2 separate regions of the Homo sapiens genome follow, and region 2 is linked to region 1. The links come from fine-mapping of genetic effects on gene expression. Tissue or cell type: whole blood. Region 1 holds a variant in brackets; the other region holds the start of a gene. All regions are shown on one strand. Distances are from middle to middle.

What was found. PIP is the estimated chance that this variant, and not a neighbour inherited with it, causes the effect.
Region 2: it holds the start of PLAAT1, and the variant in region 1 is fine-mapped to the expression of PLAAT1 in whole blood (INTERVAL, PIP above 0.99).

The regions. Positions count from the first base shown.
Region 1 is chr3:193,396,912-193,405,019 of GRCh38, forward strand. It overlaps ATP13A4 (ATPase 13A4), which reads right to left. Exons shown (of 30, transcript NM_032279.4): 30 at 2,056-5,953. The coding sequence ends at 5,741. Among named protein-coding and RNA genes, the nearest start is that of ATP13A5, 22 kb to the left of the region's middle. The variant CA/C (reference allele first, on the strand shown) is at 4,039.
Region 2 is chr3:193,236,921-193,245,028 of GRCh38, forward strand. PLAAT1 (phospholipase A and acyltransferase 1) reads left to right here and starts at 4,302. Exons shown (of 4, transcript NM_020386.5): 1 at 4,302-4,613. It overlaps MGC2889 (a long non-coding RNA gene), which reads left to right and starts at 4,859. Exons shown (of 1, transcript NR_026877.1): 1 at 4,859-7,052. It overlaps LOC105374280 (a long non-coding RNA gene), which reads right to left and starts at 4,103. Exons shown (of 3, transcript XR_924833.3): 1 at 3,975-4,103; 2 at 2,830-2,925; 3 at 1-1,614. RefSeq lists a silencer at 4,204-4,453.

The DNA of each region.
Region 1 (8,108 bases):
AAGGCAATAAGGGAAAAGATCTGAGATGAAACCAGATGTGGCCAGTGGAGAAGGACTTGAAATCCTTAGTAAGCAATGTGTACTTTATCTGGTAGACACTTCAGACCATTAAGGGTTTCTGGCCATGGACATGACATCATCAGAGTTGTGCAATAGAATAGATAGAGACTTCGAGAAGAAAAAATAGAAGAAAGATCTCAGTCAGGGAGACTACTTAAGAGGCTCTTGTAATCAGGCAGGTGGTGACAACCAAGGGCTTAGAGGAGAGGAAGTTCTGCACAAGAGACACTGCCAAGAGAGGGTCTAGGACTTAGGAATTGCTTGTAGCAGGCCCAGGTGGGACTTTTCATTGCATATATGTGTTTGTAATTACAAAGGTAAAAGCCATCATTTACCCACAAAACTTCCTCGATATGATGCAAAACCATCACCCTGGGCTTGCAGCACAATATGAATGGTGCCTCCTAGGACTGTACAGTGTGAAATACGTACAACACATGTGAGACCTCTCTGCAGTGTAACCCCCTTTAACCACAATTTTAAACTCAGCAGAATGTCCACGGTAAGTATGTGTGCAGCCTTTATCACAGGTCAGTGACTTATCAGATTTTTCTTGGCATTGAAACACTTCGAAGTCAAGACAGCAAGGAAAAGAGCTGGGAGAGTCTGGATGACTCTTTGAGTGCTTTTCATCCAACCATGGACAATGCTCTGCAGCATCCTGCATTCTTTTCCCTGACAGATTAGCTAATTTAATTAGCAGAATCTGGCTAGATGTGAAAAATGTAAAGAACCTTGATTTGGAAGTCAGTAGGTCTAGATTATAGACTCAGCTCATTCATTTCCCCATTATGGGTTCTTGAACAAGTAGTACTCGTTCAGCCTTGGTCATCTGAAGGGTGGCACAGGCATTATGCAGAAAACAAACCACGGTAGTAGAGCAAGAGCAACATTAGACAGAGTGGTCAGGGAAGGCTTCTTGGAAGAAGTGACAAGTGAGCTGAAATCTGAAGGAGAAGGAATCAGGAATGGCAACAGGGGGTTGGTGGCGGGCAGCATTCAAGGCAGAGAGGATGGCAAATGCAGTCTTCCTGAGGATAGAGCAAGCTCAGAGTGTTTGACAAAGCCATGTGGCTCACTCCTAAGGCTCTTTCATCAACTCCGGGAGAGTTGTGTTTTGTTGTTAATTTTATCTTTGTTTAATTTTGGAGAAACTCACTTTACTAATAAAGTTTAAAGGCCATTGTTAACAAGTCTAATGGAAACCAAAGGGCAGACAGAATGTTATAGGGCAGCAGTTTTCCAAATGTTTATGCATAGAGAAGTGAGCACAGTTCAAAGCCAAAAGAAAATCTATAGGAACCTGAAAAGCTGTGCCAAGCAAGTCTGAATAAAGATCAAGCAGGGATATAGTTTTCTGTTTCTGGAGACTGAAGTCAGAAACCAGAGCTTTATCCAATCACATGAAATGGGCTCACAGGGCTCTGGTGTTATGATTTTCCTCCCTCAGCTGTGGGAGTTGGCCTTTTCTGTGATTGATGGTCAGGTTCAAGAGAACTTCCATGAAACACCAAAATCTCTTTCTGGAAGAAACTGTGCTCATTATGGCAATTACATTGGACATTTGCCTCGCTGTCGTCTTGTTTTTCAATGCTACGGTTTTTCTCTTCTTTTTTCATTCAGGAAAAACAACATAGGAGAGTGACACAGCAGGGATCTCGCTGATAAAGGACCTGCATCTGAATCCAGCTCCTCCATCCATGGGCCATGTGTCCTGGTTGCTGAGACATCTGGAGAGCCTTGTACCTCATCAAAAGAAGAGAGACAGTAATCCTTGCCTTTCTTTCCTCCTAAGGTTGTTAACGAGGCTTAAATGAGAGAACAAGGATGAAAGTATTTTGTAAACTCTAATGCCCTGTGTATAAAGCAGAGAATAATAGCATCTGTGGTGTTAGAAAATGCCTGGAACTTTGTAAAGATGTTGTTTGATTCAACATTACTGGAGTAAACCACACCATTAGACAGAATGAAAGACTCCACCGCAGAGAGAGAGACTGATTTTTATAACAACTGAATTTATTATAGCATAAACTAAATACAAAGCTCTGAATAAATAATCGTTTTTTTCAGTCATCACATCTGCAGGTGTGTATGTGAACATTTCCATAAGCACATAAGGATACAGATGTCACAGACATATTTAGTGAGGGAAGCCCAGAGTCACGGTTCTCTGTGGGTAAGAGCTAGATGCCTTGAGATGAACATACAGGGCACCGTCTCAAATGATTTGGACTATGTGACTGTGTTCGTTTCTCCTTCAGACTCTGCTCAAGAAAGTGTATTGATAACAGGTTGCTCCGCCCTCAAGTTTAGGGCACTCTCCCACGCTCTTTCATGCAAAGTTTTTTAACACCTCTCTTTAAGAAAATTCACAAATCAGAAGTATTACCCCAGCTTCAATCTGACAATCAGGACCCCTACTCTGCCCCTCTTTCCTAGGATCTTATCTCCATTAGGGGTCCCCTTTCAAGGTACAGGGCAATTGAGTCTATATGTCCACACAATCGGATCTGACAAGGCTGGGAGCCCTCCCTCCAGAGCCCATCCTCCCATGAGTGTCTGTCTGGTATTCTGTGTGGGTAGTAGTAGAAAATAGTTCACATCTGGTGGCTCATGTCTGTAATCCCGGCACTTTGGGAGGCCGAGGCGGGCGGATCACGAGGTCAGGAGATTGAAACCACCCTGGCTAACATGATGAAACCCCATCTCTACTAAAAATACAAAAAATTAGCCGGGCATGGTGGCAGACCTGTAGTCCCAGCTACTTGGGAGGCTGAGGCAGGAGAATGGTGTGAATCCGGGAGGCGGAGCTGGCAGTGAGCCGAGATTGTGCCACTGCACTCTAGCCTGGGCAACAGAGTGAGACTCCATCTCAAAAAAAAAAAAAAAAAAAAAAGGTTCACATCACAGCATAAGACTGAGACACTGGGTGTATCAAGCTTGAAAGAGATCTTGCAGGTAATTGAGTTTCATCTGATACTTGACTTCCTTCTCTACTTGGCCCTTGAATAGCCACTTGTTCCTCCAATGTCCTAGAGTACATTCCACTGCTATCAGTGCTGGCTGTTAGGACAGTGGTTAGGGCAGATGGCCTGAAGCCATCCCCACTGTGATCTTTACCCATTTGTCCTGATTTTGCCTTCTCATGCCACCTGGCACAAGTAGGATCCTTCTTTCTCAGGAAAACCCTTCACAGTCCCCTGACTGTTTTCTTTCCAGGCTGGGCACTCCCTGTTCCTTCAATTACTGCTTCTAAGATGTAGTTAATCCCAGGAATACAGTCTTCAAAATGAGTCTCTTTTCCCAAAGATTTTATGGCTGCTTGACTAGTGGAGGACTAGATTCTTTTCTTCCTGTTCCCTGCCAGCCTTTGCTAGTGATAGAATCACTTAGGATCAAGGCAAGAGCAACTCAAAGTCTCAGAAAGACAGACAATCATTTTTTTGTTTTGTTTTGTTTTGTTTTTAATACACCTCTAGCCCAGGCCTGGCAGGATGCCTGGCATTCATTTGAACAGAGGGCCTGGTATTAGCAAAGGGTTGCCCATTCTTTGCTTGACTGTGAGATCACACTAAGCAACCTGCCCTGCTGGAACTCTGGAATTTGGAAGTATTTGGCAGCAATATAAGGTTTGCTCAGAAGATCTGTATTTGAGGCCTAGATCTGCTCTTGCCATTACTGAATCTCAGCTTTCTCATCTGTATGGTGGAGATGATAAGCCCTTCCTTGTTCAGTCATGGGACAATTGGTACCATTCAGGTGAGTTAGTGGAGGTGAATGCACTTAGCAAAGGGCACATTTAAGTATGAACTGTGCAGGCTGATCTTGCTCATGACTAGGTCACAGACCATCTCTAGCTTGCCCCTGCCTACAACCCTCTACTTTTGGAAAATGAGAAACACTTTTAGAGAAGGACATTCAGAACTGCCATATCATTGCTGAGGCTGGCTTTGCAAAAGGAAACATTTCTTTCTGTAC[CA/C]AAAAAGACAGTGATTCTGCAGTCTTGAAACACTAAAATATCTTCACGCCCTATTTTAAAACCAGAAGTAACAGGGTACCCTCATGGCTGGGAGACACCATGTTCCTAGAATCAGCTGCAATCATAGAGCCATCAGCCATGCTCAAGAGCTCAGTTAGGGGGAAGGAATGCTTGCAAATGCTATTGATAAGTTCCAAAGCCAGCCTGGGCCAGGACACTTATCCCCTGATCAGAACATTCACCTAGGATTTGATGCTCATAATACAAATTTTGCTTTTGCCTTAAAATATTATATGTAGGTGTGCTCCTAGAGTTCAGTGTTGTCTCCTGAGGTAACAGAAACCTGAGTCTTCCTTGTGCTGAACAAATCAAATATAACCAAATTGTAATAGTGACAAAATAAGGACAATTTTAGTTTTCTGGAAACTCAAGCCACAAACTTTAAAAAAAAAATGTACTAGTTGTGTAAGAACTCCCATCAATAGTGCCATATAATGCTGTAGCATGAGACTAATGTTTCTCAAAAATAATAAAGCAGAGGAGTGAAAATTTCTGGAGTTGGCCATGTGACATGAGAGATTCCTAAAACATAGGATAAGTTACTGGGGTTAGGAAAAGTGGGCTGTAGTGGACAGCACTCGTGCTTTCTGATCTGTTATTTTCCTCTCCTTCCCAGGACTACGTTCCAGACCAACTCTATCATTTGTGGGGCCTGGTACAAAATGAAAATATGGGGACCCCTGTTCAAAAATTAAGAATTTTAAGATGGAAACAGCAGAGTGTTAAAGCCAAGTGTGGGGACCTTCTAAGCATGGGGCCCTGTGTAGTGACAGCTCATAAGCCCATGAAGCATCCCTAAACACAGGAGACTGCACTTTCCAGCTCCCTGGCCAAATCCTTGACTAATGAGATATGAGTAGGGAAAGCAATGTGTGCCACTTTTGGGGTGAGGCAGTGAAGAGCCCACACGTGATCTCCAGTCTATTCCTTCCCCCATCACAGTCAACACACAGTCCTTGCATCGAGCTGATGGAGCCATCAGGTTGAAGCAGTCACTGCTGTAAGAATGGCAGTTCCAGAGTGTCACCTGGATCACGAAAGAAGCACTTGTGTGTTAAGGCACTGATATCTGAGAGTTGTTTTTTATTGCAGCATAGGCTAAGCTTATCCTTAACAATATGTTGGGTAAGGCCAGAAACAGAAGAAAAAGCCTCAAATCTGAAAAGTACTACAGAGAAAAGGAACCCAGACAGTAAAGATTGGTGTAATGTTTCCCACGCATTAGTTTTTCCATCGATGAAGTAAAAATTCAAAAATTACAACTCCGTGAGTATACACAGTACTACTTCCCCTCAACTCATTTTTATAAAAAGGAAAGTATTGTCCTGTCCTAAGAGGAAAGATCACATATTTTTCCCCTTTAGCCTGCTTGTCTCTTGGCCCATAGAAATTCTTGGCCCATTCTTGCCTTCACTGAATGCCTCTAATACCTTCAGAAGCCAAGAGGAAAGCACTCTTCTGGGTCAATGTTCTTCTCTGTAGACAGTATTTTATCAAACAGACTTTAGTTTGTCACCATGATTTGATAGGTAGCCCCAAAACTCCAGCTGATGTTACAAGAGTCTCATTTCTTAAAATCAATGAAACTGGTCCCTTTTGTCATTGTTTCTCTGTAATATCAACTTGGATATCACATGTCCTTCAGAGTTGTTCTTCATTGCTCTCAAATACTGGATTGCTGTAAGACACTCCTCTGCCACACTCCGGCATGTCAGAGTGGGAGGTTTGGTTTAGCGGGGGCCAACTAGGGTCATTTGCCAAGTCCCTCTGCCATATCCGATACTGGCTTTTTGACTGATAGCCGAAACATCTTTTAATCATCATCCACAGGGCTCGATTTTCAATAACAGCCTCCTGCAAAATAAAATAATTACTTTTTACAAGCAAGGGTTGAGTGTTTTGAGGCTACAGCCCTCCACAGGCCATCATAAGTCACTACTGCAATGGTTGCTTAGATCCAGCTTGACAAAGAGCTTGACCACTGGACCAATCTAAGGTGGTTTCATTGGACAGGTATTGGTTTCTCAAACGTTTCTACTTAAGTAACTCCTGTGGGAGAAGTAAGAGGTACAACATTTCAAGACTCTGGGAACATAACTTGAAATGGCTTGCCTCAAAAATGAAGTTTCTTTTGAATCTCACATCTAAATTGAATTTAAAATCATTCAAATTCTATGTTTCACTCTATAGCACATCTATATTTTGTTTAATATAAAATGACATTAAAATTACTACTAAATACTAAACACAATTGACCCTATATAAAGATGTGGCCCATGTATGACATGTTTTTGATATATCCTGACATATCACTGCATATTTAATTTCACACGGGCCAGTCTTGGAGTTGAACAGATCTGGATTTAGGTCCCAGTTCTGACACCTATTATGGGCAAATTAGTTACTCTATCCATGTCTCCGTGATTAGAATAATCCCTTCCTTATGTTTGTTGTAAGGCTTATATAACTCCCTTTACAATGCAGGGCAGGGCAGGGCATAGCTCTCTCCCTTTGCCTACCCTTTGGAACTACTCATTTAACAAATGGCTATGCACTGTGGTCCTGTTCACACATGCCTCTAACCTTCACCTTCACTGAAATACAGTATTAAGATTACAAAAGACATGTCTCTTTGAAAACATTTTGCAATGCCATTTTATTTCATGAGTTAGAGTGAGCCTTGAATAGAGCCCAAGTTATAACTTATAATTCATGAGAGGTTATCATATTAATTTTCCACTTTTATCATGTTTGCTCACAAAGATTGACCATCTTAGAGGTTATTGTGAAAGAAACAAAGAAAAAATATGGGACGTGAAACTGTCCCACAGAATTAGAACTGATTTTCATGTCTATCTTTGCTAATTTGAAAGAGTTAATTCTGTGAGATTCTATAAGGAACTTTGCCAGATATAGTAGTTTTCCTAAAATCTACCCATTTTTGCCATTTAGGTTCCACTGCCCATGAAAGGATAGAGAACAGCCAGTCTGCATTATTCCTGTGATAACTGACCATCTGCTGGCTGCGGGGCTGTTAAAGATCCATATAACCGTCTCAGCCTCTTGGAAACTTAGCCAGATGAGTTATTCTACTTTCCTGCAGCAAGGTTTTTTTGTCCTCCTTAATTGACGTGAAAACAGTAGTTCTTCTTAGAGCTGGGATAAGGCAGGAGCATCGAGTAAAGGTTTTAAAATCTTACTTACTTCAAGGAAACCTTAGCAAACCTTAAAACAAAATAGATGAAACCACACACACACACACACAGAGAGAGAAACTTTGGTGCTCTCCATCTCTACATCTTGCCTTCAGTGTTTTTTAGTTCTGGACTCTGATGACCTGTATCACCTTGCTGCTCTGGAAGAGGAAACTACAGAGAGGTGATCTGTCCTGTTACCGCACATTATAAATACAAGGCAGAACTAGTGACATGATCTGAATTTGTATTTCCATCCAAATCTCGTGCTGAAATATAATCCCCAATGTTGCAGGAAGGGCTGGATGGGAGGTGACTGGGTCGTAGGGATGGATTTCCTTCTTGCTGTTTTCGTGATAGTGAGTGAGTTCTCATGAGATCTGATTGTTTAAAAGTGTGTAGCACCTTCCCCTTCTCTCTCTTCCTCCTGCTCGGGCCATGTAAGACCTGCCTGCTTCCCCTTTGCTTTCCGCCATGATTGAAAGTTTCTTGGGGCCTCTCCAGCCATGCTTCTGGTACAGCCTGCAAAACCATGAGCCAATTAAACCTCTTTCCTTCATAAATTACCCCGTTTCAGGTATTTGTTCACAGCAGTGGGAGAATGGACTAAAATACAACTAGAAAAAAACGAAAGCCTTAGTGAGACATTTCTTTAAAAAAATTTCGCCACATGAGCGCTTCTGACTGGCTACTCAAATAACTCATACATACAAGCATACCTATATAAACACATCAATAATTGTTTTAAAGGTGGGGGCAATTAAAGCTATCCACACTACCTCTCATGCCTCTCAGCTGGAGGTTCGATCATGAGC
Region 2 (8,108 bases), 160 kb before region 1:
TTTTTGACTATGGCTACAAATGTGTGGGAAAGGGAAATGCTGATGACTTTTCAAGGCTTTCCTGACTAAAAAATCTGACACTGTAAAAAAAGGACACTGTATTCTGAAAGGTACAAGTACATATAAATAAATAAACATGTTTTTTTTTTCTCAGTAATATCTGAGACTTCTGAATTCCTCTGTAATTACATTTAGCAGGGGAAAAACAACCTCATCCATGCCTGTGCATAGCAGCTCCCAGCAATCTGTCGGCTTTTCACAGCATAGTAACCCACTGATCGCTGTCTTAGCTCTTCAATAAATACCGCAGGCCGTGTGTGTGTGCTTACAGAACTTCACAGGTTTCCATGGATACATGAATTTTAGTGCTAAAGCACATTTACTATCACTTTTCTTGTCACCAAGAATCCTGTAAACACTTGTGCTTTAAGCTTTTGTGCAGAAATTTAGCATTTCGTAGAGGACAAGTCAGAATTACCTTTTTCCAAATGCATTGTATGATTTTCCTGTAGGGCGAAATCCCCAAAATCATTGATATTTGTGGCCTGTTTTTAGTCATGCACTTTTATTTATTAAACCAATAAAAGATAATAAAGGTTTAACTACATTGTCAGTACCACTTTTAAATGACAGAAATGTATACTATTTAAATGTTACAATTAATAAATGAGATAACTTCCTCTGAATTTAAAATGCAAAGAGAGAAATAGGAAATGCAGAAGTAGGAATATTATGTTGATATTTAGCCACTTCCTAAATATGGTGAAATTTAAGAATAATTTTCAAGTATATTTTTGTGTCATACCCATAGCTTAAATTTAATCTTTCTTTTTTTTTTTTTTTTTTTTTTTTTTGAGACGGAGTCCCGCTGTTTAGCCCAGGCCGGATTGCAGTGGCGCAATCTCGGCTCACTGCAAGCTCCGCCTCCCAGGTTCACGCCATTCTCCTGCCTCAGCCTCCCGAGTAGCTGGGACTACAGGCGCCCGCCACCGCGCCCGGCTAATTTTTTGTATTTTTAGTAGAGACGGGGTTTCACCGTGTTAGCCAAGATGGTCTCGATCTCCTGACCTTGTGATCCGCCCGCCTCGGCCTCCCAAAGTGCTGGGATTACAGGCGTGAGCCACCGCGCCCAGCCAATTTAATCTTTCTTATACATACTAAGCTTTTTGGATATTTAAAAGACCTTTTCACAAATCTGTGAAGATGGCAGGCTATGTTACTATTTTTCCTGTTTCGTATATATATAAGCTGAGGCTCAGAGGTTTAACAAACATGCTTCTTATCATACAGCTAGCAAATGGTAGAACCAGGCTTAGAACCCAAGACTCATGACTCATTGCCTTTCCATTGTCTTTTTTTTTCTGAGAAGAATGCAGGCAACTCTTTATATAGAAGACATAGCTATGTTCTTCCTTCCTTGCCACATGCTGATAGATTCCCATGTCTCTGGTGTAGCCTCCATTACATTATTCTTTTCTTCATTCGTCCCTTGACTGCTCCACAGACTTGACTTAGCCTAATTTACCAAGCTTAGTCATTTCAGATGAATATAATCATCAGGAAGCAGCAGTTGCAGAGACATTACCTAGCTTGGATGTGCAGTACGTGAAAAACCTGTAAGCAAACAGATTTTCAGTTGCAATGATATTGACCAGAAATACACAAAGCAGATTGAATTAGAGGGTTAAGTAATTTGTACAGGAAAAAAATCCAGTCTGAGCAGGCAGGTGGCCTGGACATTCAAGTCAAGAAAAAAGCTTTTACTTTTACAGCATAGATTTTAGGGGCTGAGGTTGGAACTATTGGAATGATTGTCTCAACTCTTACTAGCTCACATAAAACGTAGCCAACCATCTCTGCATTATCTTGGCAAATATTTCAGTTATTTGTGCAGCTCTTTTATTTTTGTGGTTTTGAAAACCTATTAAAAAAAAGGTTTTTCTTTTGCTGTCTGATAAAAGAGGGAGTCTGGGTAGGGGAAGAGCTCTTGCCTAAGAGGCCTGACTTCAGTTCTACCCCAGGAGAACTGGAATACAGAGCTCCACATCTCAGGCCTCACACCAACTGCCAGGACTGAGCAGTCACAAGTTTGCTGAGAGGATCAAATGAGACAACAGAATCAAAGCGCTTTGCTAATTGTAAAATATGCACAAAACATATAGGGTTGTTTGAGGCCTCTGTCTAATATCACACAATGCCAATTGGTTTGAGTTTCCATGTGTTAAAAAGCCAATTGTAATTTTTGTTACCTTATAGGGCTTTTTCTGGAATGTGAACTTTATTCACTCAACAACAAACAGGACTAAGTCATCTCCATTATGCTTTTTTCAATATGTTTCAACTCTTACTATAAAATTAGGCAGCAACAGAGAATGCCAGCCACACAGGGCTTCACTTATAATGGCCAAAATAATAGGAACTGTTTATTTAAGTGTAATTTAACATCTGCTCCAATCATAGCCCCAGATTACAACTCTAGATTAAGACAAACTTTGCCTATTACTGCCCAAGGCTAAGTCCTCATTCTTTCTTAATGGAAATTTTAATTTTCCACTGCTCATCCGTAGAGTACCACCGATTGATCAACTCTCTCTCCAATCCATAGAAATGAAGAGAGAACTCAGGGCTCTCCTGAACTACAACGCTTTCTACATTTCTCCTATAAATTCCACGCAGGCATTGAATTGAATTTGTTCTTAACCAAATGCGTTTTATCTATACCTGGCAGGAATCTAGAAGTGAAATTACAAGATTTATTTCATTTTAATTCTATTATGAAGCATTTAATCACAAATACCCTGAAAATGAAAAGATAATTTATCATTTTACCTTGACTGAGCAACTCTCCTCACTTCACATTCATGAATCCATAACGCAGAGAGGAGACTGGATGATTAAGTGTTTGATTAGAGAAAACAGATTAACCTAGCAAACATAATAAATTTGGCTCATAAGCAGGATGGCTTTATAAATGCTCACAATACCTCTCCTGTATAAAATCATGAACCACTTCCTACAGTGATGACTCCATCGAAATAGTTGAGAAACATAAAGCAAATGCATGTTTATGGCTTTCTCTTTGAGACATTAAAAGGGTATTGAAAGGCATATCTGATTCAGCTTATAACTCTGGATATATATTAAGGAACATGTAAGAAAATATTAATGCATAAAAAAAGCTACAACTTCTCAAGTGTTCTAGTTTCCACTTTGTCAATAATTACGTTTTCAATGTCCTTCTGTGGACTGTTTCCAAAGGTGCCAATCCAGACCCAAAGTTTCAGATCACTCAGATTCACCCTTAACCTTCATAACACAACCCAATAGCTTTACGAAAAAAGTTGCATATTTAGGTAGTTGTTATCCCATTATGACAAAATACATAAAATTAGCGAGATATTTTTTAGCCTTCAAATAAGTGGGAAAAAATCCTTTTAGCTGAGATTCCATTTACATCAGAATAAAAATCTAAGTTATGACTAGGTTGAAGCAACGTCCTGTGCAGCGCTCCATAAAGTTCACTTAGTCTTCAAGGGTTCCTTACTTAGCTAGGTTAGTATTCCTGGCCTCTTTTTTTAGCAGTGAGAAAAAGGATACTCTCCCTGCCCCAGCTTTATTTTTAAACTCACAGCCATATCCTGGAGGTCTCTGCTGGCTATTTGGCGCGTGGGGGCGGAGGGGGGCCGGGGGAGGGGGGCGGGGCGGGGTCTGGAGGTCTGTGCTGGCTATCTGGCGTGTGTGTGTGTGTGTGTGTGTGTGTGTGTGGTTGGAGGTCTCTGCTGGCTATCTGGCGTGTGTGTGTGTGTGGTGTGGTGTGTGTAAGCAGTGAGGTTGTTTTAGGGCCAGTCCTTCCTCCGCCACTTTGCTGACTCAAAGACCCAGAGGCTTTCTTGGGGTGCAGGTACCATGATTCCTTGGGCCCTAAGGGAATTTTTGTTAGGCTAGAAGAGTGGGTGTACTCATGATGGGTGTACCCGAACATTCCTGGGCTCAACAAAACCGATTATCTTTATAACCGCGGCGCCTAGCACAGCGCCTGGTGCCCTAAACGTTGGCTGCGGGAACGTCCGAGACGCGGGTGCGGAGCCGGGGGCGGAATAACTGGTTGCGCGGCGCTTTGACCGTAGGCGCTGGAGCGCGTGCGTTGCGTGCGCGCGCGGAGGCGGCTGCGTCGGGGCGCGAGAAGGTGCAGTTCCCCGGCGGGCGGGCGGGCGGGCGGGCGAAGCTGGGCTCGGGGCCAAGCGAGGTCTAGCCGGAGCGACTGTGCCCCGCCTCCTGGGCGGAGCGGGCGGCTCCCCATGGTCAGAGCCTCGTGCCGGCTCGGCAGCGCCCGGACGCCGAGCCCAGCGCGTCGGCCCCCCGGCGTGCGGGCGTCTCAGAGCCGCGGAGGGGCCGCCGGGACCGTTTCAGCGTGGCGGCGCTGGTGCTGGCGTTGGCCCTGGAGGACGGCCCCGAGTGATGGCTGGCGCCTGCCTCCCGGGTGTCTCCCGGGTACAGATGGAGTCGTCCCGCGGCCGCCGGCGGCAAGGTCGGCAGCTGCGAGGCCAAGAGAGACCCCAGGACACACACAGCTGCCTCCCGGTGCGAGAAGAAGACCCCGGCTTGAGAGTGAGGTGTGCTGGGCGGAGTGGGGGAGGACCTCGAGGCGCCCCGGCAACCAACCGTGTTCTAACCAACTGGCAAGTGGGAAAAGTTGACATGACTAGAGAACAACGGAGCTTATCCACCCTCCTCTTTTTCACAGACTGGGGAACTCAGTCCACAGGGCAAGAGACTTTCTTCCCTAGGTTACACAGCTATTAAGTGGCAGAGCTGGGACTAGAAACCCAACCTGTTTAAGGCTTTTTAAGCCTACTGTCCTCACTGAAGTGAATATGAATAATAATACAAGTAATTATTATCGTATTGGATTTTGGAAAGTTGGATGGTGATATTCCTTTGGCATGCGAGACTATTAATATGACTCGTGCTGGAAAAAGTCACTCATGTTTTCTCTGGGCTTGGATTCCTCATTCCTTCATTCAATGAACATTTGCTCCGCAGTTACTTGTGCGAGGCACTCTCACCGGAGACTGAAGGTATAGAGCAAGCTTGTCCAACCCGTGGCTCACTAACCGCGTGCGGCCCAGGACAGCTTTGAATGCCGCCCAACACAAATTTGTAAATGTTCTTAAAACATTATGAGAGGTTTTTTTTTTGCGCTTTTTTTTTTTTTCTCATCAGCTATCATTAGAGTTAGTGTATTTTATGTGTGGCCCAAGACAGTTCTCCCAGTGTGGCTCAGGGAAGCCAAAAGATCGGACGCATGGTATAGAGAAAAACAAGAAGCATCCCTCCATAGCGTATGCCCCACAAGAGACAATTTCCCAGAGACCAGTAGCTGAGGCAGGTGTAGGAAGTGAATGGGCCATTAGATGGATGCCTGTGGAAGCTAAAGAAGGCGGATCGGAGGAAGACAATCCGACCTGGGGAGTGGAGGAGAGAGGGGGAGAAGGTGGCATCGACTTGGATTTTTTAAGATTGAGTCATTTGGGGCACTTGGAAATGGGCATTCTGGGTAGAAGGTTCAGTATTAACAAAAACAAAACAATACTCTTGAGTGGGAAGAATAATGGATAGTTTGATTTGCCTAGAATGTAGAGATTAATAAGGATGCCAGGATTCTAGGGCGGGGGACCAAGATGGGGAGTCAGTGGTGGGAAGCCCTGGAAGATTCCAAGCAAGGCATGACAGTGCTGTGGCAGCGGATAGTTAATTTGGCCAAGGAGTGGAACCCTCCTTTGTAGCGTGAGAGTGTTGGACCAAGGATCTTTGCAGCACTGAGAGTCTATGAATTAGCCAATCTGGGAATACAGGGCTTCATGGAAACATCACAGTGTAGGAGGATTATGGATGGAAAGTGCAGCTGGAATGGGAAAAGGTCGAAACCTAATTAGAAGCCTTGGGCCAGGGGTAGCCTGTGATCACCTGCGATTGTGTTTCAGACTTCCAGTAACATTCTTGGGAGTAGTTGTTAAAAAAGTGCTCTTCGTGTTTCTGTAACTTGGGTGGCCTCTTAGGCATGAGCAGACGTTCAGCCTGTCCCTATCGGCAGGGAACATTTATTTATTTTGATGCATCCCCAGGGACCAACAGAGAGCTATAAAGACAGCAGCCTGTTTTGCCAGTTGGCCAGTTGAAATGGGAAATTTCTTATACAAAGATTACAGACTTAACCTTCATGCCACTCTTTATTATAAACTGTTCATACAGTTCTTTGCAGATGGACTCAAAATGAAGCATTTTTTTACCTTAAAGATTGTAGTAGAGGATGTTATAAATGTGTCTTTAATTGGTTCTGTGTTTTCTCATACTTATGAAGCACTGCATTACACAATTTGTCTGAATGAAATTGGTAGATGTGGTCCATGTAAAACTTACCCAATCAGACAGGTTACAGATATTTGCCTAAAATCTGAGCCTGGGCACCTTAGAGATATTCTAACCTCACCCGGAAACTCCGCAACTGGAAAGGTGCAGGGATTCTGGAGCGAGGTTCCACTTCACATTATCTTCTGGTTCTGCATATGAATATTTAAAAACTTCCTGTGGTGTTATATGAAATATGTATTTGCATGCTTTTGCAGCTGCTCCATCTAATAGTATTTGAGAAGGGGAAAAAATGAAATGTTGCTTAGTAGAAATTCCTTTGGTTAATGATGTTAATCAATGGTATAAAAAAGGAGCATGAACTCTGGAATAAGAAGGGACACCTGAAATTGAATTCCAGTTGTGTCGCTTACTACCTGTGCGACTTTAGGTCTGGCACTTAACTCATCTGAGTCTCAGTTTCCTCATCTGTAAAATGGTCACCACAATAATCAGCTCGCAGTCTAACAGAACAACCTGTCACCACTAGAATCCCACTTGTTGGCCTTTTATAGCCACACCTACTTCCCTCCCACTGCCTCCTCCACTTCCTTAACTCATAGCAACCACTGTGTGTTCACTATCTTTTTAAATAATTGTATCATTTCAAGAATGTTATAAAAATGGAATGATATAGTGTGTGACCCTTTGGCATTGTGTGTTTTTATTTTTTCCACTAAGTATAATTCTCTAGAGGTACATTCAGGTTGTCGCATATGTCAATAGTTTTTTCCTTTATTCCTAAGTAGTATTCCATGGTAGGCCTGCACACAGTTTTTTATTTTTTAATTTTTTTAACCACCCTTTGAAGGTCATCTTGGTTGTTTCCACTTTTGGGATATGATGAATAAAGCTGCTATAAGCTTTTGTGTGCAGGTTTTTGGGTGGCTATAAATCTTCATTGTCTTTATTCTCAGGGGTAAATGCCTAGAAGTACAGTTGCTGGATTATATAGTAGTTACAAGCTAAACTTTTAAGGAAGTTGCCAGACTGCTTCCAGAGTAGCTACACATTCCCACCAGCAGTGAATGAGTGATCCAGTTAATGACAATGATGACTCTGCATCATTGTCAACATTTGATGTTGTCACTGTTTTTTATTTTAGCTATTCTGTTAGATGTATAATGATATCTCATTTTGTTTTTTTTTTTTAAATTGACAATGATTTATATTTATGGGGTACAACGTGATGTTTTAATCTATCCATACATTATAGAAATAATCAAACTAATGTATTAGTTCATTTTCTGTTATAACAGATTTATAACAGAATGCCAAAAACTAAGTAATTTATAAAGAAAATTAATGTATTTCTTATAGTTATGGAGGCTGAGAAATCCAAGGTCAAGGGACCACTTCTTGTGAGAGCCTTCTTGTTGGTGGAGACTCTGCAGAGTCCCAAGGTGGTACAGAGTATCACATGGTAAGGGGGCTGAGTATGCTACCTTGCTAGCTTAGGTCTCTCTTCCTGTGATAAAGCCACTAGTTCCCTTCCCATGATAATCCTTTAATCCATGAACTCCTTAATCCAGTAATCCATGAATAGATTAATCCATTCATGAGGACAGAGCTCTCCTGATCCAACCACCTCTTCAAGGCCTGCCCCACTTCTCAATACTACCACATTAGACATTCAGTTTCAACATGCATTTTGGAGGAGACAAACATTCAAACCATAGCACATATACATCATCTCACCA